Linked DNA regions of Homo sapiens. The protein of the gene in region 1 interacts with the protein of each later gene in a pairwise test. Each region holds a gene or a part of one and is shown on either strand. Other genes may lie near its edges.

Region 1 (4,293 bases):
GGGCAGCCCAGGTTGTGCCCCTGGGAAAAGGCTCCATCTGCCTGGGAGGGACCCTAACCCCGCCAAACACACTCTCTACTTCTCTGGCGATTCCCTCTCCCACAACCAGGCGTCCCCCTCACATCTTCTCAATGCTTCTTTGCCCTAGAACACTTTCCCCCACTCCTCCCTACCCCCACTCCCATGCCAGCCCCTGTCCGGAGTCTCCTCCTCTTTGAACACGTTCCTGCCTACCCTGGGCTCTGGAGGGCTTCCGACTGTCTCTGTTATGGCGTTTGTCCCCCCGTGCCACCATGTCTGCTGGGAGGTGCCCGTTTTCCGTGCCTCTCTGCGCTGGGTCCCCCATAGACGCTGGGCTGGGGTCTGTGGAGAGGGTGGAAGTCCCCGTTCTGGACTCTAGGATCGACATCCTGCTTGAATGTTTGGAAGAGGGTCCCAGCTGAATTAAATTCAAAAAGAGGCTTTCAAGGAAGAAGGAGGTGTCATCTTTGCAAAATTAACGACCCCCAATCCACGCAACCCCTACGCCATCCCAAGGCCGGCGCCCTGCGAGGTGGCGGGAGGCCAGGGTCCCGGGTTTACCCTCGGGTGACTGCCCAACGCGGGCTGGGATACAAGCGGACCCTCGGAAGGGTTCCTTTTGCAGACTGGCGCAGTAAGGACCCCATGCCGGGAAAGGTTGGGAGGTGGGGGACCCAGGCCAAAGCGCCAAGTATCGCGAGAGACCCCCTGCCCCCGCGCAGTGCCCTAAACCCCCCTCACACCCCAGCGCCCCTGCTGGCTGCGCGCGGGGCCCGGCCGGGTGGGGCGGACAGGGAAGGGGGGGCGAGGGTGACCTCAGCGGTTCCGCCGCTCCGGGAAGTCGCTCGGCCCGCCCCCTCCGGCCCCCGCCCCGAGTTTCGCTCTCTCTGGGGCGGGGCGAGCGGCGGGCGGCGCTGGGCCAGCCAAGTTGGAGCGCGCCCCGCCCGGCGCCCTCGCCGTCCCCGCGCCCTCCCCGCCGGGGCGCGCTGCCCGCAGCTCCACGCGCGCCAGGGCCGCCCTGGGGAGGGCGCGCGCGCGAGCGGCGACCGGAGAGGAGCTCGGGGCGGCGGAGGTGAGCGCTGGGGGTGGGCTCCCGGCTCTGCCCGCCCCGCCCGCCCGCCGGCCCTCTCCCCGCTCCCCGCGGCCGCGCTGCCATAAATGGGGCCGGCGGCGGCGGCATCTGGTGGGCCGGGCGGCAGCTGGAGGCGGCGCGGAGGCGTGGGGCGGGTGGCGGCGCAGCCACCCGGGCGTCGGGGACGCCGCGAGCGGGCGGCCGCCCGGGAGTGAAGTTCAGGAGCGCCCGGGCGGGGACGCGCGCAGGTTTGCGCGGCTCCGGCTCCTGCGCCTGAGTCCCGGGACCCGCCCCCGCGGCGGAGCTGCTACTGTTTACTTTCGATCGAGTTTTTCCTGCTCGGGGCAGGTGCCCGCGGCGGCTCTGGACGGGAGGTTGCGCGCGTCACTCCCGCGCCGCTCTTTCCGCGCTGCCTGCAGCCGGGAAGGGCGCTTCGTGGGCGCCTCCAGGCGCGCTGACGGGCGTCCCGTTTGTGCCCAGGTGATGACGGCGGCGGCATGGAGTTCCCTGAGCACGGCGGACGGCTGCTGGGCCGCCTGAGACAGCAGCGCGAGCTGGGCTTCCTATGCGACTGCACCGTGCTGGTGGGCGACGCGCGCTTCCCGGCCCACCGTGCCGTGCTGGCCGCGTGCAGCGTCTACTTCCATCTCTTCTACAGGGACCGGCCCGCGGGCAGTCGCGACACGGTGCGGCTCAACGGCGACATCGTCACGGCGCCCGCCTTCGGCCGCCTACTGGACTTCATGTACGAGGGCCGCCTGGACCTGCGCAGCCTGCCTGTGGAGGACGTCCTGGCAGCCGCCAGCTACCTGCACATGTATGACATCGTCAAGGTCTGCAAGGGCAGGCTCCAGGAGAAGGATCGAAGTCTGGACCCGGGGAACCCTGCCCCTGGGGCAGAACCTGCTCAGCCACCGTGCCCCTGGCCTGTCTGGACCGCGGACCTCTGCCCAGCTGCCCGAAAGGCCAAGCTCCCCCCGTTTGGGGTCAAGGCTGCCCTCCCTCCTCGAGCATCTGGGCCTCCTCCCTGCCAGGTCCCAGAAGAGTCAGACCAGGCCCTGGACCTGTCGTTGAAGTCTGGCCCAAGGCAGGAGCGGGTCCACCCACCGTGCGTCCTCCAGACACCCCTCTGCAGCCAGAGGCAGCCAGGGGCCCAGCCACTGGTGAAGGACGAACGGGACTCACTGTCCGAACAGGAGGAGAGCAGCAGCTCTAGGAGCCCCCACAGTCCCCCGAAGCCACCTCCTGTTCCTGCAGCCAAGGGCCTGGTGGTGGGCTTGCAGCCGCTGCCCCTCAGCGGAGAGGGCAGCCGGGAGCTGGAGCTTGGTGCAGGGCGACTGGCGAGTGAGGACGAGCTGGGGCCTGGTGGGCCCCTCTGCATCTGCCCGTTGTGCAGCAAGCTGTTTCCCAGCTCCCACGTGCTGCAGCTGCACCTCAGTGCCCACTTCCGTGAGCGAGACAGCACCCGGGCCCGGCTCTCACCCGACGGCGTGGCACCCACCTGCCCGCTCTGTGGGAAGACCTTCTCGTGCACATACACACTGAAGAGGCACGAGCGGACACACTCGGGTGAGAAGCCCTATACGTGTGTGCAGTGTGGCAAAAGTTTTCAGTACTCCCACAACCTGAGCCGGCACACCGTAGTGCACACTCGAGAGAAGCCGCATGCCTGCCGGTGGTGTGAGCGCCGTTTCACGCAGTCCGGGGACCTCTACCGCCACGTCCGCAAGTTTCACTGTGGCCTCGTCAAGTCCCTTCTGGTGTGATGCATCCCTGTGGGTCCTGAGGGTGGGGTGGAAGGGAAGGGATGGGCCCTCCCAGGTGGGACACAGCATGGGGTGTGAAGCCTGACCAGGTGGAGGTCCCTGCTTGGGCCAGATGGCTCCACCCTCCTGGCAGAGAGAATGCTGCCTCTTCCTGGAACTTGGCCTCAGACTCGGTAACTTGGGCAGCCTTCCTCCCACCTTGCCTCTCCTTTCCCCTCACTCTCCAACTCATTCCGGCCCCCAGGCTGTGCCCTGCCTAGGCTGTGACACTATCTTCCTCTCCCGTCCCCTCCAGCCAAGTTCTGAGGGGTGTCCAACCAGCACCTGGCTCTGCCCCCGTTTCTCCGTGTGAGATGGCACATCCATCTCCCGGCCCGGGACTTTCCTGACCACCTCTCTGGCAGGCTTGGGGAGGTCTTCATGAGCCTGGCCCCACGCTAGGTGAATTATTCACATGTCAGAAAAGTTGTTGGTGTGCGTCCCAATGGGGCGCTGGGAGGGAACAGGACACTCCTGGGGAGCGGCAGCAGGAACCCCTGCCAGGAAGGCCTGGGGCACAGTGAGTGCCAGCAGGGGCCATCTGGGCACAGCTGGTGTCTCGGGGTGGGGGGGGGGGTGCAGCCCCAGCAGGGATCCTAAGGCAGCAGGAGTAGAGCCAGCTAGAAGCTGAGTGGCTGTGGCATCATTGTCACTCGGGTGGGACGTGGGTCCATGAGAGCGTGCAATTATGACCACACTGTAACTTTGAGCAGAGAAAGTGGGAATTTGGAACTGGATTCTCTTTAGAGCCAGGAAGAGCCTCCTGAGGCGGCCAGATGTCTGCTGGTGGCCGCCCAGCCACATGCTTGTCTGCCTGAGTGCAGGTCTAGGAAGCCTCTGGGCATCCCCCAGGGTGGGGTCTGGGCCGCTGAGCTGTGTGCTGCTGCTGGGCCACCGTGGGCCTTACCTTGACGGTCACTCTGCCTGCTAGGGGGTTTCCCTGGAGCTGTGGGCATTTCCGTGCACTGACTGAGCAGAGGCAAGGGCTGCCCTGTCCGCCAGGGGCAGGGTTTGCGGGCCTTCCTTTCCCCACGGCGAGGCATGGGTGAAAGTGGCCATGGCGGCAGGGTTAGGGGCAGGTGAGGAGTGGGAGTCGCAGCACCCTAGGGGCCTCCATCCGCAGCCTTGGGAGACTGACGCTCCTCGAACATGAATAGAATGTGGAGACCACAACCCCCACACATGTCGTTGGTTCAGGTCGCCCTGCTTTGCCTGCCTAATGGAGCACATCTTGCTGCCAGAACCTCACTGGCCTCTGGGGGTCGGCAGGTGCAGAGCCACCTGGACGCCTGGAGACCACCTGGGATGTTTCCTCTGTGACTGGGAATGGCCTTGACAACAGAGTCCAGCCAAGTCTACGTTATTTTCTCATCTCCTGACAACACTGGATGTCAT
Region 2 (3,500 bases), on another chromosome or scaffold:
CTGCCCTACTGACCATCCTTCAGTGCACTGAAGGCTGAATCCTAGTCCTCGTCTCGGACATCAGGCCTGCCACATGCTGCTCATGCTGTATCTTGTCCTCATCTCATTCCAGCTCCTCACTGGGACATGCCGCTACACTGACCTCCCTTCGGTTCCTTGAATGGACTAAGCTCGGTACTGTTTGTGAGCTTTTTCTTGCTACTCCCTTTGTCTGGAATGTTATTTTCTCAGTGTGTGGCAGGGCTGGCTCCTGCTCATGACGTGGGTCTCTGCTTAACAGAGGTGTTCCCTGACTGCTCCAATCTCAAGTGACACAGAAGAAATCCTTCTTTCCCAGTCCCTCTGTCAAGATACTCAACTTTCTTTTCCTCCAAAGCACTTGTTATCTGAAATGATCCAACTTGGTTTCTTTACTATCTGACTGCCCCAGGTGGAATATAAGCTCCACTGGGCAAGGCCTCCTTCTGGCCTCAGTCCTGAATGACTGAAGTGGTGGCACAGGCCACAGGAGGCCACAGGAGGTTGGTTGCTGCTGCTCACCTGCACTGCTCATGCTGCCAGCCTGGCTCGAGCTGGGCTCTGCCACAGGGTGACTGAGGTCTTCCACACAGGAAGGGACAGATGCCAGTAGACCTGGGAGAGAGGCGAGGAGTAATCAGAGTGCCGTCTCGCAGGATTGCAGAGGGCTACAGGGCAGGATGAAGCAAGTGGGGGTGGGGAGGGTAGGAGCAAGACACTGAGGTTCCATTTCCTCCCACAGCCCCACAACTACTCAGGAAGGCCCAGTTCATCCCAGCCTGCAGTGTCCCATACCCAGCGAAGGTGTCAACCTGAAAGACAGCACTCAGTCTCCCTTTGCAAGTATCTGGACATCCCCATCTGGCCCCCTGAGCCTGTAGGTGCTGTCCTTCCCTTCAGTGAGCTAGGTGTTTGTCTCCTTACAGAGTCCCCGGTAGCGCGAAAGCTGCTGGTAAATCTGCTTCATTCGTTCAATGTTAAGCCGGCTGGTCTCGGCATGGTTGACGATGGGCCGTGGGTAGTCCACACCAATGATGCACTTGGCTGCCTTCTGAATTGACTCTGGGGCATTCCAGGGCTCATAGATGTATCGAGAGGGGAACGCTTTCAATTTGGGCAGGTATCGCCTGAAATAAGATACACCAGATGACCCATCAGCATACCCAGACCCTCCTTCAAAAGGCCCAGGGTATCCCATCCTAGTAGGAGGCCACAGTGGTCAGAGGCCAGAGAGCCTGGTCTGTATCCTCACCTGATGTAGTCCCCACTGGGGTCCGTGCGACGGCCAAAGCCCACAGGGCAGTAGCAGTGGAAGAACTGCTGGAAGAAAGCACTGCAGGACAGCCACATCCAGCTGCCTGCGTTCACGCTGAAATCTGCATCCAGGAGCAGCTCATCAAATACCTAGATAGGGGAGGGGATGATCAGCCTCCTTGGGGACATGCAGCCATGTTTTTTCCCAAGTCACCACAGTGCCCCCAGGAGCCAAAACCCTTCCATTGAAGGCAAGCCACAGAGGATCTGGAGGGGATCTCCTGGACCCAGAAATCCCACCTCATCCCTCAGCCCAGAAGGGGGCTGCCCTTTGACGGGCCTGACCAGAGGGTACAGGCCAGCTTTTCGTTGAGAGAGCACTCACCCGGACCCCGCTCTCCCAGCTGACCCAGAGGTCCCCGCGGGTCAGGAAGCAGGCCACGGCATGCCGGGCCAGGTGGTGGATCCAGCCCTCCTGCCTCAGTTGGGTCATGATGGCATCAATCCAAGGGAAGCCTGTCTTGCCCTCAGCCCACTTGGCCAGGGCCTCAGGATTGCGGTCCCAGGGGATCTGGATGCAGATGGGGTTCCCCTCCATGCGGTCAAACCTGGGGTTGTTGGTAGCTGCCGTGTAGAAGAACTCTCGCCATAGGAGTTGCCCAAATAGGGAGAGGGGAGGTGTGCTGTTCCGCTTCACCTGAGAGGTAGGGGTGGCACATGGATACAAACACTCGCCCAGCTCTTAGCATGGTGCCTCTCAGGTCTCTTCTACAAAGGAATCTGGGCCCTCCAAAGACCTAGTGGCTCAGCTGCCAGATGTGGAGGGACTATCCCCTAGAAGTGGCACAGCATGCCTGCATGTGAAACACCCAGGCCCTGCCTGCACTGTGCCACTGCTCTGAGCAAGAAGAAAGCTACAGAGGGCCAGGCAGTGGGAAGGGGCCTCACCACAGGACTCTGCACTAGGATTCAAACTTCCCAAGACTGGTCATGTTCCTTGTCCTCAAGAGTTCCCTGTTTGGCTCCACCTTCTAGAAAGTCAAAAGGAATTTTCCTATCAGCACACATGAAAAATGCTCAGTCTAGATTTTGGTTGAATAAATTATACACACAGCCTGGATCTGGGGCCATAAGGTAATTAAGAAATCAGACCTCCAAGCAAATAATGACTTCCCTAAAGTCACAAGATTACTCACCAAACTGGCAAAGCTATCCCATGCCACAAAATCTCAATAATGGCAAGGATGAGGAGATAACATTTAAAAACCTAGATACAGCCAGGTGTGGTGGCTAGCATCTGTCACTTTGAGAGGCTGAGGTGGGTGGATGGCCTGAGCCCAGGAGTTTGAGATCAGCCTGGGCAACATGGAAAAACCCAGTTTCTACAAAAAAATACAAAAAATTAGCCAGGTGTGGTGGCATGCACCTATAGTCCCAACTGCTGGGGAGGCTGAGATAGGAGGATCACCTGAGCCTGAAAGGTTGTGGCTGCAGTGAGCTGTGATCATACCACTGTACTCCAGCCTGGGTGACAGAATGAGATCCTGTCTCAAAAACAAACAAAAAAACAAATGTAGACACAACGGCTAGGCATGGTGGCTCACGGCTGTAATCCCAGCACTGTGGGAGGCCAAGGCAGGACAATTGCTTGTGCCCAGGAGTTCGAGACCAGCCTGGGCAACATAGCAAGACCCTATCTCTACAAAGAATGTAAAAAATTAGCTCTACTTGAGAGGCTGAGGCAGAGGGATTGCTTGAGCCCAGGAGTCTGAGGTTTCAGTGAGCTGTGATCAGGCCACACTACACTCTAGCCTGGGTAACACAGCTAGACTTTGTCTCTTAAATAAACAACAGAAACAAAAAACATAGGCACAAGATGAGGTGATCCCTCTGAATGCTGACTGTGTTGCCCTCTCTCCTTCTGGGGACAGTTAACACAGGCTTATTTGCTTCTTGTCTGTATAGCACAGCCCTGTGTGCAGCCCCTCCACACCACTCCCTCCATCACTGATGGGCAACTGCTGTTCCTGGACTCCCCTTTTGAATGCTGTGGACACAGCTCCAGAGCGGGCAGCTATGCTCTTCCACTTCAGACTGGCTCCAGCCTCACCCTCTCCATGCCTCTCACCCTGGGGACCTCGCCCCTGTCCACCAGCTGCCAGAGGATATGCCACCTCTAGGGTCACACCTGAGGCCTGCTTTTCTGCCTGTCCTTCTGCTCTACATGA
Region 3 (3,500 bases), on another chromosome or scaffold:
CTTTAGTGAGTGGAGAAGTAGTTAAAAAAAAAAAACAAAACAGGATCTGTAGCTAGTCTTGGGAAAGCATTAAAATCTAGGGTGTGTGAGTGTGAACCCCAGCCCTGCCACTTACGAACTCTATGGCAGGAGTCCCCAACCCCCGGGCCATGGTCTGTGAGGAGCTGGGCTGCACAGCAGGAGGCGAGCGAGTGAAACTGAGCTCCGCCTCCTGTCATATTAGTGGCGACATTAGATTCTCACAGGAGCATGAACCCTATTGGGAACTGTGCATTCAAGGGATCCAGGCTGCACACTCCTTATGAGAGTCTAATGATAAATGTAATGTGCTTGAATCATCCCAAAGCCATCCCCCAACCATACGTGGAAAAATTGCCTTCCATGAAACCAGTCCCTTGTGCCAAAAATGTTGGGGACCACTGCTCTGTGGGATTTTGGCCAAAGTACTTAATCTCTCTGTGCCTCAGTCTCCTTGTCTAAGGGATGAGGATAACAGAGGCTAGCTTTTTGAGTTTTGGATTTATATTAGTTATGTTAGAACAATGGCTGGCCCATAGTATCTTTGTTATTGTTTTTTCTCGCAGGGTCTACCTTGCCTCCCCCACTTTTTGCCCTGTACTCTGTGAAGTCCATCTGGTATATGCTGTCTTAGTACCTTGCCGCCTTTTACATACCACCCGACACAGTTGCCCACTACCCTTGCTGCTGCGATGTATTTGATCAATGTCTATCCTTTAGCTTTAGCTTCCAGAGCTCGGGAACGACGTCGATTTTGCCCATCACTGGGGCCACATACTGGGTGCTCAGTGTTGCATAGCCTGGGCCCACTCTGGATTTGCCCCTGAGCATGGGGATTTGGAGGTGTGAGTCCCGACACTGGCTCTCACTCCAGATGGGTAAAGAATGCACCTTGTATTCCCACCTTTCTGAGGCACCCCCTCTCCTGTCTCCCACAGGCACTGACATGGCCGTCTTCTGTCTGCTGTGTGGGAAGCGCTTCCAGGCGCAGAGCGCACTGCAGCAGCACATGGAGGTCCACGCGGGCGTGCGCAGCTACATCTGCAGTGAGTGCAACCGCACCTTCCCCAGCCACACGGCTCTCAAACGCCACCTGCGCTCACATACAGGTAGGTCAGTCCAGCTGATGGGTGGATCTGGGTCTCTGGGAGCCAGCGTCTATATTTACCTCCAAGGACGTAAAGTGGAGGTGGTGGGCTGAGTCAGCCTTCAGTCCTTCTGCTCAAGGCTTGGACGTGCAGAGGCTGCCCGTCGTGCAGGTAAATGTGGACAGTTCTCCCAGTCCCCTCCTGTGGACCGTCGGTTCAAAGTCTTTCCGTGTTCAACACAGGATGCTCATTAAAAAGGCAGGCTCTTGGGTCCCACTCTCAGAACCTTTTATTCCATGGGTCCAGGGTGGGGTCCCAGATTCAGCATTATTAATATGTATTCCCAAGGGATTCTCATGTAGGTAGACCCAAAATGAATTTTGAGAAAAACTGACCTGCTGGGTCTCTTAACATTGTCTGCCCTGCCTCCCACCACTCTTGATGCCCCGCCGCTCTATCCATACACATTTCTGAAGTCAGCTTCGGGCTTCTGAGGGCAAGTTGAAGCAGTGATCCTACTTTCCCCACAGTAACAAAGGCCTGTACTTGGACCTTAACCCTGTTTAGGGAAGACAAGGAGGGCATTTAAACGATGAGCAATGAAATATCACTGCTCAGCCAGTTCCAGGTGATGGGACAAGGGAGGGGGTACAAGGTAAGGAGGCTGGGCCAGGTGCTGAGGGGCTGGCCATTCCCTGCCACCAGCCTCTAGGGCTTGAGGGATGGGGACACTTGGTCCCTGATGGCCAAGAGGCATTTGCTTTCCTGCAGCAGCTCCCAGTTTTCCCTAACAGGGGAGTGGATGGCTTAAATTCCTTATTTTCTCTATGACAAAACTGGGGCTCTGCTGAAACTACCTGGTTAAAGGAATGCCCATTTCTGAGTCTGCCTTTGTGTGCTGTGTTTGTAGGGAGGGTTGGGGTCAGGTCTCTATCTGGGTATATAACAGAGCGTATACTTGTAAAAACCTCTGCATGCCACGTAAAGGAACAGTAGGCCCTCTCCTCATTTTGAGAGTCTTGTCACAGCTCAGAGATTGAGTATGCAGACCAGGTCTTGCATGGGTGGCAGGCTCTGCTAAATAAGGGAAGAGCTTTACTTCTCATGGACTGAGCTGGCCTGGCCAGCCAGCAGCAGGTATCCTCATTAAGGAGCCTTCCTGGCTGTCACTTCTGGATGCCATTTTGTTCAGGGGAGCACATTGTCTTAGCATCACCAGATTTGCACAGAACTACTTAAAATTTCTGGGACAGGACGGAGGTAGGGCCCAGAGGGGTGGGCTCAATAAAAAGGGCCCAGGAGAGTGGGATGTTGACAAGGACTTTCTCTACAGCGATTGCGTAAGCATTTCCCCTGCAGCTATATGCACCTTCCTATGAACGCCTCCCTCAACAGTTCCCCAGGTTCATTCGGTCTTATGAAAGATGGCTAGATACCTTTCAGCCACTTCTGAGCATGCCACTGGGTCCAATCAGTTGGCTTCATGTGACTTGAATGATCTCAGTCCTGCTAAATCCACCCAGGATGTGCCCTGCTCTGACCATGCCACCTTCTCAGAGCTCAGATATGAAAATGTCACATGCTCTTGTGTCAGTCATGGCTCAGATCCACGGGGAGGGGCTGTTTCCAGAGTTAGGGAGAAGCCCTTGCTTATTCTAGGAAACACGGAGCATGTGTGCTGCCTATGCACACACAGAGAAACACCCATCAATTTTCACACCAGCGAGGCACTGCGCACACAAGCCATATACAGGCTGTGCACACCCCACACACAATGCCTCATTAATATTCCGTTGTTCTTGGCCCATTTGCTGCTGGGGCCGGGTGTTTAGCATCAGCAGCTGTGTTTGGTAGGTTAGTCCAGCCGTGCTCTTGGCATTGATGGATCCCTGATTCACACGGCTCATCATATAATAAACTCTCAGCTGTGCTGAAGGGAGGGGCTGGAAGGGAGGGGCCTGAGGAGCCAGCAGGATGGGGCTGGGGTGGGGAGGACGACAGACACTGGGCTTGGCCAGTGCCAGAGAAAGCACCAAGTAAGGACAGATTGGGGGGGGCGGGGTCACAGGTGCACTGGGCAGGCTGGAGGGGGCTCTAATTAGTCTCGTTTGTCCTGCACTTAATGTCAAGCTCATTAAAGAGGCTACAGAGTTAATCAACATACCACAAATTGGATTTTGAGTTCTGCAGCCAGTTTTGTGTACATTATGGCCACACTGACACAATCAGCTCTCAGGGTGAAGATTTCACGCCAGGTGCACACCGTGCTTCCAAATCGGGATGGGGATACGTGTGTGTTGGTGACTTTTTCTTTCTTTTTTTTTTGTTGTTGTTTGTTTTTCCTTCTAAGTTCTTTTTATTCTTTTCCCTGGGCAGACTCAAGAATTTCCTATT
Region 4 (3,986 bases), on another chromosome or scaffold:
ATAAGAGGGGATTAAGAGAAGAAAAAGCTTTGGGCAAATTATACACTGAAGGAAAGGAAGATAGGAAACAAGGCAACGATAGATTGGAGCTGATTATTTCAGGAAGTGATTTTTGTTCTATTTATCTTAAAAATAATATAAATATAGTGAGACATAGAGACAACAGATGGATGGATGGTCACTGACCTCTTACTAGGAGTGGCAATGTGAACATTGGGACGCTTCCTGGTGCATGTACCCTGCAATTGTTAGTTTAGTACCCCTATTCCCTTTGTGAAAGAGGCCAGGGATTTTGCTTCCCCCAAATAACAGTAACAGCAGCAAAAGCAGCAACAAACCCTTCAAATCTGCTTACCCTGCCAGATATTGTTTCACTTTCCTCATCTGTAAAATAGGGATTACTTTATGATGGAATCCCCACAACAACCCCCGGAGGTAGGTACGATATAAGTGCCTTGTTCCAGGTCATACAGCTAGGTAGTGTCAGAACACAGATTGAAATTCAGAAGCCTGGCTCCGAAGTTTGAGCTCTCATTCACCGCACTACATATATCTATGGGAGGATAGGCGACACATGCATGTAATAAATGTGTGAGCATTTATTGTACTGGAAACTCTCCAGCTCCTCCCTCTCTACATGATCCTTTGCTTCTAATTTTGTCAATCACAGCACCTTCCCTGGCCCTTACTTTGTTCTTGCCAATCTCCTCTCCTTGAGCAGAAGAGGGAAGGGAGCCTGCTCTGTAGGTGAACAGCTCCTCCGCAGAGGCATCCTGTTTTCTTAGTGCAATCACTAATTCGCATTGCAAAATGCTTTATTACATGACTGGGTTGCCATTCTAGGAGCATTCACTGAGCGCTCAGAGTGGGAACGTTTATCAGGCATGCAAATGCTAACTTACTTTCTAGAGAATGTTTAACTTAAAAGCCTAAAGAAATCTCAGATAATTCACTTCGGAGTAGAAACCTCCTTCAGCCGCGCTCACTACGGCGCCCGGCTTCGCGGCACCGGCCACTAGAGGGCAGTGGCCGCCGCAAAGCCGACGCGGGCGGTGGGCTCGGCGGCTCGGCCATCGCTTGCTCTCGCCTGGCAAGGGGCTCTCGGCCGTGGATTAGCGCAGCTGGAGACGTGGGAGGCCGCGGGCCCCGCCCCCGACCGGCGGCGGCTGCGGCGGCCCAGCGCGGCAGTCGGCGCTGCGAAGTGGAGGCGCTGCGAGCGGAGCCGCGCGGAGGGCGCGACCGGCTGGTCCGGGCAGCGTGGGTTTGCCGCCTTCGGGGCTCCAGTCCGCGCGCCAGGGCTCGAGCAGTACCGCGGGCCCCTCAGGTGGGCCTCGGCTCGGGACGCCGGGAGTCGGGACCGCCAGTCGGGGCGCCGGGACCATGGCGCTGCGCGCCCGGGCGCTGTACGACTTCAGGTCGGAGAACCCAGGAGAGATCTCGCTGCGAGAGCACGAGGTGCTGAGCCTGTGCAGCGAGCAGGACATCGAGGGCTGGCTCGAGGGGGTCAACAGCCGCGGCGACCGCGGCCTCTTCCCGGCCTCCTATGTGCAGGTGATCCGCGCCCCCGAGCCTGGCCCGGCGGGAGACGGCGGCCCGGGCGCCCCGGCCCGCTACGCCAATGTGCCCCCCGGGGGCTTCGAGCCCCTGCCTGTCGCGCCCCCCGCCTCCTTCAAGCCGCCGCCTGACGCCTTCCAGGCGCTGCTGCAGCCACAGCAGGCGCCGCCTCCGAGCACCTTCCAGCCGCCCGGCGCGGGCTTCCCGTACGGCGGGGGCGCCCTGCAGCCGTCGCCTCAGCAGCTCTACGGCGGCTACCAGGCCAGCCAAGGCAGCGATGATGACTGGGACGACGAGTGGGACGACAGCTCCACGGTGGCGGACGAGCCGGGCGCTCTGGGCAGCGGAGCATACCCGGACCTCGACGGCTCGTCTTCGGCGGGTGTGGGCGCAGCCGGCCGCTACCGCCTGTCCACGCGCTCCGACCTGTCCCTGGGTTCCCGCGGCGGCTCGGTCCCCCCGCAGCACCACCCGTCGGGGCCCAAGAGCTCGGCCACCGTGAGCCGCAACCTCAATCGCTTCTCCACCTTCGTCAAGTCCGGCGGGGAGGCCTTCGTGCTGGGGGAGGCGTCAGGCTTCGTGAAGGACGGGGACAAGCTGTGCGTGGTGCTGGGGCCCTATGGCCCCGAGTGGCAGGAGAACCCCTACCCGTTCCAGTGCACCATCGACGACCCCACCAAGCAGACCAAGTTCAAGGGCATGAAGAGCTACATCTCCTACAAGCTGGTGCCCACGCACACGCAGGTGCCGGTGCATCGGCGCTACAAGCACTTCGACTGGCTGTACGCGCGCCTGGCGGAGAAGTTCCCGGTCATCTCCGTGCCCCACCTGCCCGAGAAGCAGGCCACCGGCCGCTTCGAGGAGGACTTCATCTCTAAGCGCAGGAAGGGCCTGATCTGGTGGATGAACCACATGGCCAGCCACCCAGTGCTGGCGCAGTGCGACGTCTTCCAGCACTTCCTGACGTGCCCCAGCAGCACCGACGAGAAAGCCTGGAAGCAGGGCAAGAGGAAGGCCGAGAAGGACGAGATGGTGGGCGCCAACTTCTTCCTGACCCTTAGCACGCCCCCCGCCGCTGCCCTTGACCTGCAGGAGGTGGAGAGCAAGATCGACGGCTTCAAGTGCTTCACCAAGAAGATGGACGACAGCGCGCTGCAGCTCAACCACACGGCCAACGAGTTCGCGCGCAAGCAGGTGACCGGCTTCAAAAAGGAGTATCAGAAGGTGGGCCAGTCCTTCCGCGGCCTCAGCCAGGCCTTTGAGCTGGACCAGCAGGCCTTCTCGGTGGGCCTGAACCAGGCTATCGCCTTCACCGGAGATGCCTATGACGCCATTGGCGAGCTCTTCGCGGAGCAGCCCAGGCAGGACCTGGATCCCGTCATGGACCTATTAGCGCTGTATCAGGGGCATCTGGCTAACTTCCCGGACATCATCCACGTTCAGAAAGGTAAAGCCTGGCCCTTAGAGCAGGTGATATGGAGTGTATTGTGCAGGCTGAAAGGGGCGACTTTGACAGCAGTACCACTGTGGGTTTCAGAATCATATTCTACAGGTGAGGAAGCGAGCAGAGACGTGGACGCCTGGGTCTTTTCCCTAGAGTGTAAGTTGGATTGCTCGACAGGCAGCTTCCTCCTCGAGTATCTTGCATTAGGGAATGAGTACTCTTTCTCGAAGGTTCAAAGAGTACCTTTGATGACAGTGCTATCATTTTAGAGTTTGAATAGTTGAGTAATGAGCTGCTCAAATCTGTAATCTTGAGACGAGGGTAGAATTAGAAGGGGACCTAAACCATGTTAGGTATCTGTTTGAACACTGCACTGTCACTTAGTGGTGAGTTTCAAAAAGTGAGGAAATAATGGAGAAGAACGGATGTCTGTAAATAGAAATCTGCTTTCACCCTTCCACACCTCTCAATCTCTGCTTTGGTAGAGGAATTAAGATCAATTCTCTGAGTTTAAGAAATTCCTGCAAAGAATTCTTGCCTGCAACCTTTACGAAGTGAAGTAATTTCAGGAAAAGCGTACTCATTTTGAGTTTGAAATCTATTAATGTACTGAAATTGAGAACGTTGTTTAGGAAAATTGTTTAGGGAAACTACATAGAATGAATATAATCTGAGTATTGGATCTGAGAGCAGCGTTGCTGGTATCCCAGTGAGTTAGCTGTCCAACTATCAGAGTTCATGAGTTATTAATAGTTGTTAGTGTCTCTGACCTTTGCTAAAGCACCAGAATTTGCAAATTAAAAAAATATATAGCAGTAGTGCTTGTCTTAACATTTCTTACTAATGTGCATTCTCATATAATGCCTTGATTGAGAGAATGGGGAGGTGTGGGAGTTAGGGAGGCAGTCTTGCCTGTGAAAGTCCAGTGTAGGGGCGGCTGGGCAGGGAAACCTACTCCTGAGCAGGGAAACCTACTGTCCCTGTTTCC
Region 5 (3,500 bases), on another chromosome or scaffold:
GGTTCACGTTAGATATGGCTAGTTACTTGAATCCTTGACCCTAAGGGATTTTTACTAGTATTACTTCCTTAACTTATGAAAATTTTCAAACAGACAGGAAAATTGGAGATTTTTTACAGGGAACACCTATGTATATATACACACATTATATGTGTGTGTATACATATATCTATATATATATATATATATATATGTATGCTATATATTCTATATAGTGTATATATACAGTATATATTCTATATAGTGTACATGTACACTATATATTCTACTCTATAGTATGTATACTAAGTATATACTATATATACTAAATTCTAATATTAATAGTTTACTCTACATGCTTTATTACATATTCATCCATTTATCAGTCCTCTATCCACCCATCAATCTGTCTTATTTTTAGATGCATTTCAAAATAAGTTGTATATAAGTATGTTTCCCCGTAAATACTTCAGCATGCATAACATTAACTAGAACTCAATGTTTGCAGTTTTTTCTTTTGATGTAAAATTTACATAAATCCTAATTATACCATTTAATGATTTTTGACAAACAGCTGTGCTTGTTTAAATAAAACTGCTATCAAAATTTAGAACATTATCATCACTCCAGAAAGTTCCCTGAAGCCCTTCTGCAGTCAACCCCTCCCCTTCTTTCCCACCCCCACCCACCGCACACCACACCTCTGTCATGTGTTCTTCTACCAGAGATGAGCTATGCCTGTGCGGCCTTATCTATATGGAATCTTGTGGTATGCACTCTTTGATATCTGGCTTCTTTTGTTCATCACAGATTTTTTGAGATCCATCCATATTGTCCTATATATCAGTGGTTGGTTCTTTTATATTGCTGGATAGTATTCCATTGAATGAATCTAGTGTTTGTTTATCCGTACTCCTAATAATGAACACCTGTTTTCCAGCTATTATGAATAAAGCTGCCATAAACATTCTAGTATGTACCTTTTTTTTGTAGACACATATTTTCATTTCTCTTGAATAAATAAATACCTAAGAGTGGAATAGCTGGGTCATGGAGTAAGTAATCATTTCATTTTATAACTAACTGCCGGACCTTTTCCCAAAGCTATTTGGCAACTGTGCTATTCTGTACTCCCAGCAAGAATGTAAGAGTCTAGTTCCTCCACATCCCTGCCAGCTTTCTGGTGGGTGTGTAGTGGTAGAGTGTTGTGGTTTTAATTTGCATTTCTCTGACAATTCATATTAAACACTTGTTCATGTGTTTATTGGCCTTTCATGTATCTTTTTCAAAGTGTCCAAGTCATTTACTCATTTTTGTTGTTTGCTTTTATTTTTGAGTTGTACAAATTCTTCATGTACCCTAGATACCAGTCCTTTGTCAGATACATGTTTTGTAAATGTATTTCCTCCTGTGGCTTACCTGTTTTTCTGATGCCTTTTATGAGTAGAAGTTTTTAATTTTGGTGAAGCCTAATTTATCCACTTTCTTCTTTTGTGGTTTTTGCTATGTCCTGAGAAACCTTTGCTACCTGGAAGTCATGAAGATACTCTTAAGTTTTGTTTCTAAAGCGTTACGGTTTTAGCTTTTACATTTAGACCCGTGATCCATCTTGAACTGATTTGTGTTTTACTGAAATTAAAGATACAAAACAGAAAACTCTCATAGCAATTCTGTTGTGATTTGATAGCTTTTAAATATAACTTGGCAGTCAAAGTTTGTTTTAAAATAAACTGTGGTTAAGTGACTCATTGGACTGAGGCAGGCTGGCTGATGATCACCGTGGGTTCTGACAAGGTGAGAGCAGAACCAGCCATTACTCACTATGGCTAGAGTCAGTCATGGCTCTCCAGGAGAAATACAATTCAATTATTGGTAATTGAGAATTTGAAAAAAATAGCTGCTTAGCTGTTTTAAAGATGTAGGTTAGTTCTTAAATTTTGAGTTCAATAATGAATCTGGATATAGTTATTTTACATTTGTCATTAAAAGCTCTTAAAAATGGTGTAACTGGTGAGGTAACTGGAGGGCAGTAACTGAGAGGAACCCTCTATGATGAGCAGATGAACAACTTCCAATTGGTTTGCAGGAAGTTCTGCTTTGATTCCTAGATAATTGCTTTATGAGACAAGCCTGTGTTTAGAGGAAAGTTCTCTGATTACAACTCTTAAAAGATAAATGATCTAACTTCATTCCTTAACATTGTAAGAAGGAATTAATTTTTAAAAGAGAGAAAATTTGAAGTACTTTGAAAGAAAAATATAGTAAGAATATGTGATTCATTTTTAAAATTAAAATTTGGCATATCCTTATATTCACTCCATTAAAAAAAAAATCTATAATGCTCAGTAAATGTTAATTCATCTGTGCCCACGATGCCAGGACATGAGTTTAGCCAGAATGTTACGCCTTGGGCCCCAAAATGTGATCCATATATTGAAAATATCAGTTTTCTTAGTAACTGGGTAAAACTTAAAGAAGAGTCATGAATTAGAAGGTATAACCCGAAGAATGTTTAAAAGGTGCAGTTTGAGCTTATTTATGCTCATAGGATGTATTCATGGACATTTCCTTAAGACAGAGAAAACAGTTTTTTTCCAAAGGCTTTCTTTCTGTTTGTGATTCTAGGATGTAGCCTCTATTGAATTGAATATGTCATCTACTTTTGATCTTTAGTGCAAAAGCATTCACTGCAGGCATAACTTATTTGACCACATCTGCTTGTTTTGATATTATTGGTAACATTTTGCCTACTTTACAAAAAAAAAAAGGAGGGGGCAAAACCCAGGAGCCAGATAGTTACAATCCAGATGGTTTGAGGGGAAAATACTAAGAGAAAATACTTGATTCAAAACCACCCATAAATATTGAGCCATCACTGAAGTTCTTGTTGGAAACATGTCTCTGAGCTCTGCTATCCTCTGTCTTGGAAAGAGCCTATTAGAGTGCTGATCTTTGCTACTAGTACTCTGTTGTACTGTTCTCCTGGAGAGCATAAACTTGTCACCCAAAAGCTAGATTGTGGCTGGAGTTATTTTGATGGGATATGTCCCTTTATTGTAAAAGGCTGTAAGTCCATCTAAAAAGGAACTCTCAGACATGTTTACCCTAAAACCCCAGCTTAGGGCTGGGCACAGAGGCGGTGCAAGACAAATATTTATTGGCTTGAAATGAAAAGGTTGCTTTATAGCCATGAAACTGCAAAATGCAGGAAGGGACTATCAGAAAGCTGATGTTGACAGTAAGGAGAAGGATTTTTCATGCTTACCAGGCATCCTCTGCACTCCAGGCTAGAATGTGGAGTATGTCGAAAAGGTCAATCATCGCCCTTGCTAGATCTTTTCTTAAATTCTGGCCCATATGCTGAGAAGGATCAGTGGTGCTCTCAGGCTGCCTGCCACCTGTTTACATTCTGTTACTGCTTCTTTGCCTTTGATTTTGGCCACTGTCTCTCCGGAAGTGTAGGCATGGATAGGTTGCAAAAAGACACGGAATTGATTCAAAACTCTTCTTACTATCTAATA
Region 6 (3,500 bases), on another chromosome or scaffold:
TGGGTGGCTCACCCTGATGCTTCAACTGCCCCAGGCATGTGTCAGTGCGTACCTCTGTGGTGACCCAGCAGCTGCTGTCGGAGCCCAGCCCCAAGGCCCCCAGGGCCCGGCCCTGCCGCGTAAGCACGGCGGATCGAAGCGTGAGGAAGGGCATCATGGCTTACAGTCTTGAGGACCTCCTCCTCAAGGTGAGAGCACCTGCGCGTTGCACAGCCCAGCTGTGAGCTGGGATTCAGCAGAGATGGAGGTCAGGGCTTAGAAGGTGGCACAGTTTCCTTTCTGATACCTACCAGCGCCTACAGATGGTAATGCCCACCTGGAGAGCTGTCCAACTAATTAGCAATGACTGATGTCTGTTTGGTAACAGGAGGGGGGCAGTACGTTACCATCCTACACTATCAGTAGGTCAGTGGTATTTTCAGGGCACATTTTTCTTGCTGGAAAATCTCATGCTTCCCACTTCCATTAGTTTTTTTTTTTTTTTTTTTTTTTTTTTGAGACGAAGTCTCACTCTTGTCATCCAGGCTGGAGTGCAATGGCGCGATCTTGGCTCACTGCAACCTCTGCCTCCCAGAATCAAGCGATTCTCCTGCCTCAGCCTCCTGAGTAGCTGGGACTACAGGCACACACCACCACACCCAGCTAATTTTTTGTACTTTAGTAGAGACAGGGTTTCACTGTGTTGCCCAGGCTGGTCTCGAACTCCTGAGCTCAGGCAATCCACCCACCTTGGCCTCCCAAAGTGTTGGGATTACAGGTGTGAGCTACCACACCCAGCCCAAGATGGAGTCTTGCTGTGTCACCCAAGTTGTAGTGCAGTGGCATGATCTCAGCTCACTGAAGTCTCCGCCTCCCAGGTTCAAGTGATTCTCATGCCTCAGCCTCCCAAGAAGCTGGGACTACAGGCATGCACCACCACGCCCAGTTAATTTTTGTATTTTTAGTAAAGATGGGGTTTTGTCATGTTGGCCAGGCTGGTCTCAAACTCCCGACCTCAGGTAATCCACCCACCTCTGCCTCCCAAAGTGCTGGGATTATAGGCGTCAGCCACCATGCCTGTCCTCACTGATCATCTCTATAGGGGTGGGACCCTCTCATCTGCAATCCCAGGTGCCTGGTACAGGTCAAATGTTTGGATTAGGCTTCCAATTATTAGGCTCTATTTAACATACAGAAATCAATCATAGCTAACCTCTTTATTCTAAGTTTCCTCCCCTATTTCTGTGTATTAGTTCTGTTCTTCCGGAGAGCCAATTTCCCCTCCTTTGTAAGGCTTCTGGCTGCGCAGACTACATTTCTTGTGCTTTCAATCAAAAGGACCTGTTCATACTCTAACCTGGACTTGGTGCTGTTTTTTTGCCCTGAGGTCTGGGCACCCCCTGCATCAAAGTGTCCTTGTTATATGTGGCTTCCCCTGGAGGAAGCAATTGCAAACTAACAAAAGTTACACAGTACAAATACAATACAAAACTTTGCCTGAATCATTTGAGAGTAAGTTGCCAACTTGCTGCCTATTACTCTTGGATACTTCAATGTGCATTTTCTACAAACAAGGATATTCTCCTTTCTACAAACAAGGATAGCCATCATACAACTATTACAATCAGGAAACAGTATTACATTACTGTAATTGAATCCTGAAACTCAAGCATTGCCAGCTGTCCCAATAATATCCTTTATAGTGAAAGGATCCAGGTCAGGATCAAGTGTTTATTTAATTGTATGTCTCTTTAGTTTCCTTCAGTATGGAACAGTTTTTCAGTGTTTCCTTGACTTTCATGGCCTTGACCATTTTGAAGATTATGAGCCAGCTATTTTTGTTTACTGTCCCTTGGTTTGGAACTATGCATTTCTTTTTTCTTTTTTTTTTTTTTTTTGAGACAGAGTCTCGCTTTGTCGCCCACGCTGGAGTGCAGTGGTGCTATCTCGGCTCACTGCAAGCTCTGCCTCCCGGCTTCCCACCATTCTCCTGCCTCAGCCTCCTGAGTAGCTGGGACTACGGGCGCCCGCCACCGCGCCCAGCTAATTTTTTTTGTATTTTTGGTAGAGACGGGGTTTCACCGTGTTAGCCAGGATGGCCTCAATCTCCTGACCTCGTGATCTGCCTGCCTCGACCTCCCAAAGTGCTGGGATTACAGGTGTGAGCCACCACACCTGGCCCTATCCATTTCTTTAATTCAGGTTTATATCTTTGGCAGGAATATGATAAAAATAAGTTGCAGGCCAGGCATAGTGGCTCATGCTTGTAATCCTAACACTTTGGGAGGCCGAGGCAGGAGGAGTCCTTGAGCCCAGGAGTTCAAGACCAGCCTGGGCAACATGGTGAGACCCCGTCTATACAAAAATAATACAGGAATTAGCTGGACATGGTGGTGTGCACCTGTAGTCCCAGTTACTCAGGAGGCTGAGGCAGGATGATCACTTGAGCCTAGGAATTTGAGGCTCCAGTGAACTGTGAATGCACCACTGCACTGCAGCCTGTGTGACAGAGCGAGACCCTGTTTAAAAAAAATTTTAAAAAGATTGTCACTGCAAAATTATATGCAATTTTTGTCACCTTACTGTTTTGATTATTTGAATAAAGTGGTAGGTACAGTCAAGCTTCTCTATGTAACATTTTCCCCTCTGTTATTTATTTTCTAGGTCAGTACTTTGTACTAAGTAAACATTGAATTCTGCATCTGTCACTGTATTCACTTATTATTATTATTATTATTATTATTATTATTATTATTTTAGAGAAAGGGTCTCGCTCCATTGCCCCGGCTAGAATGCAGTGATGTGATGATGGCTCACTGCAGCCTCAAACTCCTAGGTTCAAGTGATCCTGCCACCTCAGCCTCCCGACTCGCTAGGACTATAGGTACACGATCTCACACCTAATTTTTAATTTTTTTTTAAATAGAGAGGGGGTCTAGCTATGTTTCCTAGCCTGGTCTCAAACTCCTGGCCTCAAGTGATCCTCCCACCTCGGCCTCCCAAAGTGCTGGGATTACAGGCATGAGCCACTGCATCTGGCCTATTTATTTATTTATTTATTTGTTTCAAAAGGGACACAGGTATTTCTATTTTAATAGCATACATGAATGGCAACAGATTATTTATTGATGCTCAAGTTGTCCCAGACTTCAACATCTTTTTATCATGTCCCCAGCATTCTTTGCATGCTTTCTTTCTGGTGCAACAAGGTATTACAGGCTCATCTTGTATTTTCCCTGCCCTAATTCTTGGCCATTTTTTTCTAAGGTCTGTTTCATTTTAGTGGAGAATGGTATTCAGAAACCGAGACCAGGGAGCTAGATATGTTCATTGCTATTGGTGTGTTGCTGATCCCAGGCCCTTACTGAAAGAGTTTTAAGTAGCAAGATATGTTCCTTAGTGAATCCAAGCAAGAAAAGTGACGTGATAATGCCATCATTCCAAGATAACTAATGATGTGGTTGTAAATGTCCTGAGGAGCCTATTCTTATTATGGACCATGTAATCTGCCAGGTGATTTG
Region 7 (3,500 bases), on another chromosome or scaffold:
AGGAGGCCCTCCACTCCCCAGTTTCTGGCTCCTGGGAGAATGGGGTGCTGACCGTTAAGCTGAGGCTGTGTGAATATCACAGAAACCTGGACAGTGAGAGCCAAGAGGGACTGTAGCCGTCACCTTGTACAAGAGTTTTTCATTTGGCTTCCTGGAACCACAGGGCAGCTGCATCTTCATCTGTTTTACATCCTGGGAATCTCAGCAAGAGAAAATTCAACAAAAGCGTTCTTTGCCTAAAACTTTGAAAACCACTGATGTGATCAGGGACCTTATTTTAGAGATGAAGCTAAAGAGGCCAGAGAAGACAATGACTTGCTCAAGGTCACAGCCCACAAGACACAATAGATTTGAGAAGCAGAGTCCAGGCCTGCAACTCTGGAGCCAGGACGGTGCCCCAAGCAGCCTGGGCAGTGTGTGGGCAGGACCTAGGGTCTCATGATGAAGGAGGGAGACTTCTGGGGAATGGGACCTGTGACGGGGCTCTTGGGCCAGTGGGTGGAGGGTGACTCAGACCAGTTGACCCTCAAGACCAAGCTGAGCTCCCCAGCTCGTCTACCTGCAGGTACCTGGGCCAGCTGGACGACAGTGAGTTTGAGAGAGCCCTGCAGAAGCTGCAGCTGACCAGGAGCATCTGGACCATCGACCTGGCCTACCTGATGCACCACTTTGGCGTGAGGCACCGCTTCTGTACCCAGACCCTGGGTGTCGACAAGGGCTACAAGAACCAGGTGAGCGACCAGCCACCAGGCCTTCCCATGTGGGGCCACACAGAGGTATAAGGCCACCTGGTTCCAGTAGTTGGAAGAGGGAACAGTCAAGGGCTAGACACCCAGGTAGATACCCAGGTGTGCAGAGACCAGGGAGCAGCAGCAGAGAGGCTATAGGCAGGATTTGGGAGCCAGTCAGAGCAGGTGCCCTTGCAGTCGGGCCTGCCCAGAGGATCTGAGTACTGAGTCCTGGCTCCTGTCCACCTGCCTTCTACAGCCCTCAGAATGTGCAGAGGCCACTTCCTACGTTCTTTCCTACTGTCCTCAGCACAAGGCAGGCCCAGGGCCTCTGAGAACATCACTGACCTCATCCGGCCATCATTTGCACATTTTTTTACTTTTCACCAGGAGAGCCAGCTTTTAAGCTATATAATTGGTAGTCTAGAAGAAAACCAAAATACCATCTTTTCTTTTTTTTGCCTTTTGAAAAATAATGCCAACATAGCCATGCCAGCAAAGTGTGTTCCGTGGACGACACCTAGCTAAGCCAAGCTGTAGCTGAGCTGTCCCAGGTGGTTCAGCCTCATCCCCCTTGCTTATTCGCTACGGGCTCCTGCTCATGCCTGCCAGAGTGTACAAGCCCAAGGGTGATCGATCCTCCCCAGAGAGCTGACCTGAGCCCAGCTGCCCACCCCTCTCTCAAGCATCATCCTCATGCCTCTGTGTGGTCCTGCTTCCCTGCTCCTGCTTAGGACAGACAGCTTTCTGATCTGGCTTGCTGCATGTACCGTCTGCCCTGGCAGGTGGGGCTCCTCTGCCCTCCTGCTGTCTCTGCCTCTGTAACACGCTCTTTATTTCCTTCATCTAAATGGAGTGAAGGCAGCCTGGGTGGTGGCCACTCCATCCCCCTCTTCTCTGTTCAGTCCTTCTACAGGAAGCACTTTGACACAGAAGAGACCCGGGTGAATCAGCTGTTTGCACAAGCAAAGGCCTGCAAGGTGCTGGTGGAGAAATGGTGAGCCCCCCAACTTTCCTACCTGCCCTTCCTCTCATGCCTGCTCACCCACAGATCTGCAGTGGGGAGGCCTCGGGATGGTGTTCAGGAAAGGCTAGGACTCTGGAGCCAGGCAGAACTGGCTACCCGGGTGGCTGTGGGCACTGACTTGCCCCCTTGAGCCTTGGTTTATGGAGCTCACTGGGGCTACATGACCCAGGCTCTGACCAGGGGTGGATCCTGAGCAGGTGCTGGAGGGATAGGTGAGTGAGAGAGATTGCACCCAGCCCTTGGGCTACTTGCAGAAAGACAGCATGGGACAGAACACAAGGCCCCTAATGAAAGGGCGATGGCCTAAGAGGAATGTGCTGGTGCAGTGATTGACAAGGGATGGGGAACAGGGAGGACCCAGTGTGTAAGGGCTGCTGTGACCTTACAAGGGCCTCCTCTTCTCATCTGTATGCATTGGGGCTGGATTCAGGAAGACTCTGGGTGCAGTTTGCCCAGATGTGGGTCACATTCTTTTCTGGGCTACGTGGGAGTGGGGCTCAGACCTGCTGCCTCTAGGTCCTGGACAGGCTCTTCTCAGATTTTCCCTTTCTTTGCGGATTTATATTTTCATTATTGACGTAGTATAATCACATGATAGGTGATTTAGAAAATGGGGGTTTGGGGGCCGGGCGCGGTGGCTCACGCCTGTAATCCCAGCACTTTGGGAGGCTGAGGTGGGCGGATCACGAGGTCAGGAGATCGAGACCATCCTGGCTAACACGGTGAAACCTTGTCTCTACTAAAAATACAAAAAATTAGTCGGGCGTGGTGGCAGGCGCCTGTAGTCCCAGCTACTCGGGAGGCTGAGGCAGGAGAATGGCCTGAACCCAGGAGGCGGAGCTTGCAGTGAGCCGAGATAGTGCCACTGCACTCCGGCCTGGGGGACAGAGCGAGACTCTGTCTGAATCTGCCCTCAAGGAAACAGAAAGGCAAATCCAGGATGTGGGACATTTTCCAAGAGTACTGCCCCGGGCTTTAAAAATCAACAAAACAGGCCGGGCACGGTGGCTCACGCTTGTAATCCCAGCACTTTGGGAGGCCGAGGCGGGCGGATCACGAGGTTAGGAGATCGAGATCATGGTGAAACCCCGTCTCTACTAAAAATACAAAAAATTAGCTGGGCGCAGTGGCGGGTGCCTGTAGTCCCAGCTACTCGGGAGGCTGAGGCAGGAGAATGGCATGAACCCAGGAGGCGGAGCTTGCAGTGAGCCGAGATCGCGCCACTGCACTCCAGCCTGGGCAACAGAGACAGACTCTGTCTCAAAAAAAAAAAGAATATAGTGGGGTGGGATCTCCATTCATACTATGACCACATGGGCACATGTTGGAAGGAAAGGCAGCAAATGTTTATTTAGCAGCCCTCAACAGGTGCTGTCTCCTTGAGTGGGAAAGCTGTTGCTATCTCTGCTTCTCGGGGGAGGAAACTGAGGAGGAGAGAGACACCCAAGGTCACCCCCAGCATCTTGGCCATGCCATGATCTGAACCCATGCTTGTTATTCCTTGAAGCCTGTAGTTTTTCCTTCCAGCCAAGCCCCTGCTTTTTCCCTATAGCTGAAATCCCACTCCTGTGCACTGCCACTGGGAACTCAGCCAGCTATTTTGTTTCAAAGACCAAATGGAAAAATGGCATGTTTCCTTGGCCAAGGCAGCAATCCAAACTGCCACGTGACTCAGCTGTGGCTGAAGCTGGGTCAGGCCACATGGTACTGATGCTGCCACTCCTAAGGAAGGCCCCAAGTGGGTG

The links.
Region 2: the proteins of ZBTB42 (region 1) and CRY2 interact in binary tests that used the Homo sapiens proteins (3 or more experiments, as listed by UniProt).
Region 3: the proteins of ZBTB42 (region 1) and ZBTB16 interact in binary tests that used the Homo sapiens proteins (3 or more experiments, as listed by UniProt).
Region 4: the proteins of ZBTB42 (region 1) and SNX18 interact in binary tests that used the Homo sapiens proteins (3 or more experiments, as listed by UniProt).
Region 5: the proteins of ZBTB42 (region 1) and MYLIP interact in binary tests that used the Homo sapiens proteins (3 or more experiments, as listed by UniProt).
Region 6: the proteins of ZBTB42 (region 1) and CIDEC interact in binary tests that used the Homo sapiens proteins (3 or more experiments, as listed by UniProt).
Region 7: the proteins of ZBTB42 (region 1) and GUCD1 interact in binary tests that used the Homo sapiens proteins (3 or more experiments, as listed by UniProt).

Annotation. Positions count from the first base shown.
Region 1 is NC_000014.9:104,799,608-104,803,900, forward strand, and holds the start of ZBTB42 (zinc finger and BTB domain-containing protein 42), read left to right. Parts: upstream 1-1,493; 5' UTR 1,494-1,590; coding exon 1,591-2,859; 3' UTR 2,860-4,293. UniProt on the Homo sapiens protein: Transcriptional repressor. Specifically binds DNA and probably acts by recruiting chromatin remodeling multiprotein complexes.
Region 2 is NC_000011.10:45,867,975-45,871,474, reverse strand, and holds part of CRY2 (cryptochrome-2), read right to left. Parts: intron 1,970-3,500; coding exon 1,658-1,969; intron 1,423-1,657; coding exon 1,271-1,422; intron 1,146-1,270; coding exon 943-1,145; intron 634-942; coding exon 541-633; intron 1-540. UniProt on the Homo sapiens protein: Transcriptional repressor which forms a core component of the circadian clock.
Region 3 is NC_000011.10:114,241,211-114,244,710, forward strand, and holds part of ZBTB16 (zinc finger and BTB domain-containing protein 16), read left to right. Parts: intron 1-956; coding exon 957-1,127; intron 1,128-3,500. UniProt on the Homo sapiens protein: Acts as a transcriptional repressor. Transcriptional repression may be mediated through recruitment of histone deacetylases to target promoters. May play a role in myeloid maturation and in the development and/or maintenance of other differentiated tissues.
Region 4 is NC_000005.10:54,516,573-54,520,558, forward strand, and holds the start of SNX18 (sorting nexin-18), read left to right. Parts: upstream 1-1,186; 5' UTR 1,187-1,380; coding exon 1,381-3,001; coding exon of another isoform or gene 3,002-3,267; exon of another isoform or gene 3,268-3,986.
Region 5 is NC_000006.12:16,135,586-16,139,085, forward strand, and holds part of MYLIP (E3 ubiquitin-protein ligase MYLIP), read left to right. Parts: intron 1-3,500. UniProt on the Homo sapiens protein: E3 ubiquitin-protein ligase that mediates ubiquitination and subsequent proteasomal degradation of myosin regulatory light chain (MRLC), LDLR, VLDLR and LRP8. Activity depends on E2 enzymes of the UBE2D family.
Region 6 is NC_000003.12:9,873,754-9,877,253, reverse strand, and holds part of CIDEC (lipid transferase CIDEC), read left to right. Parts: intron 1-34; coding exon 35-188; intron 189-3,500. UniProt on the Homo sapiens protein: Lipid transferase specifically expressed in white adipose tissue, which promotes unilocular lipid droplet formation by mediating lipid droplet fusion. Lipid droplet fusion promotes their enlargement, restricting lipolysis and favoring lipid storage.
Region 7 is NC_000022.11:24,545,139-24,548,638, reverse strand, and holds part of GUCD1 (protein GUCD1), read left to right. Parts: intron 1-565; coding exon 566-731; intron 732-1,633; coding exon 1,634-1,725; intron 1,726-3,500.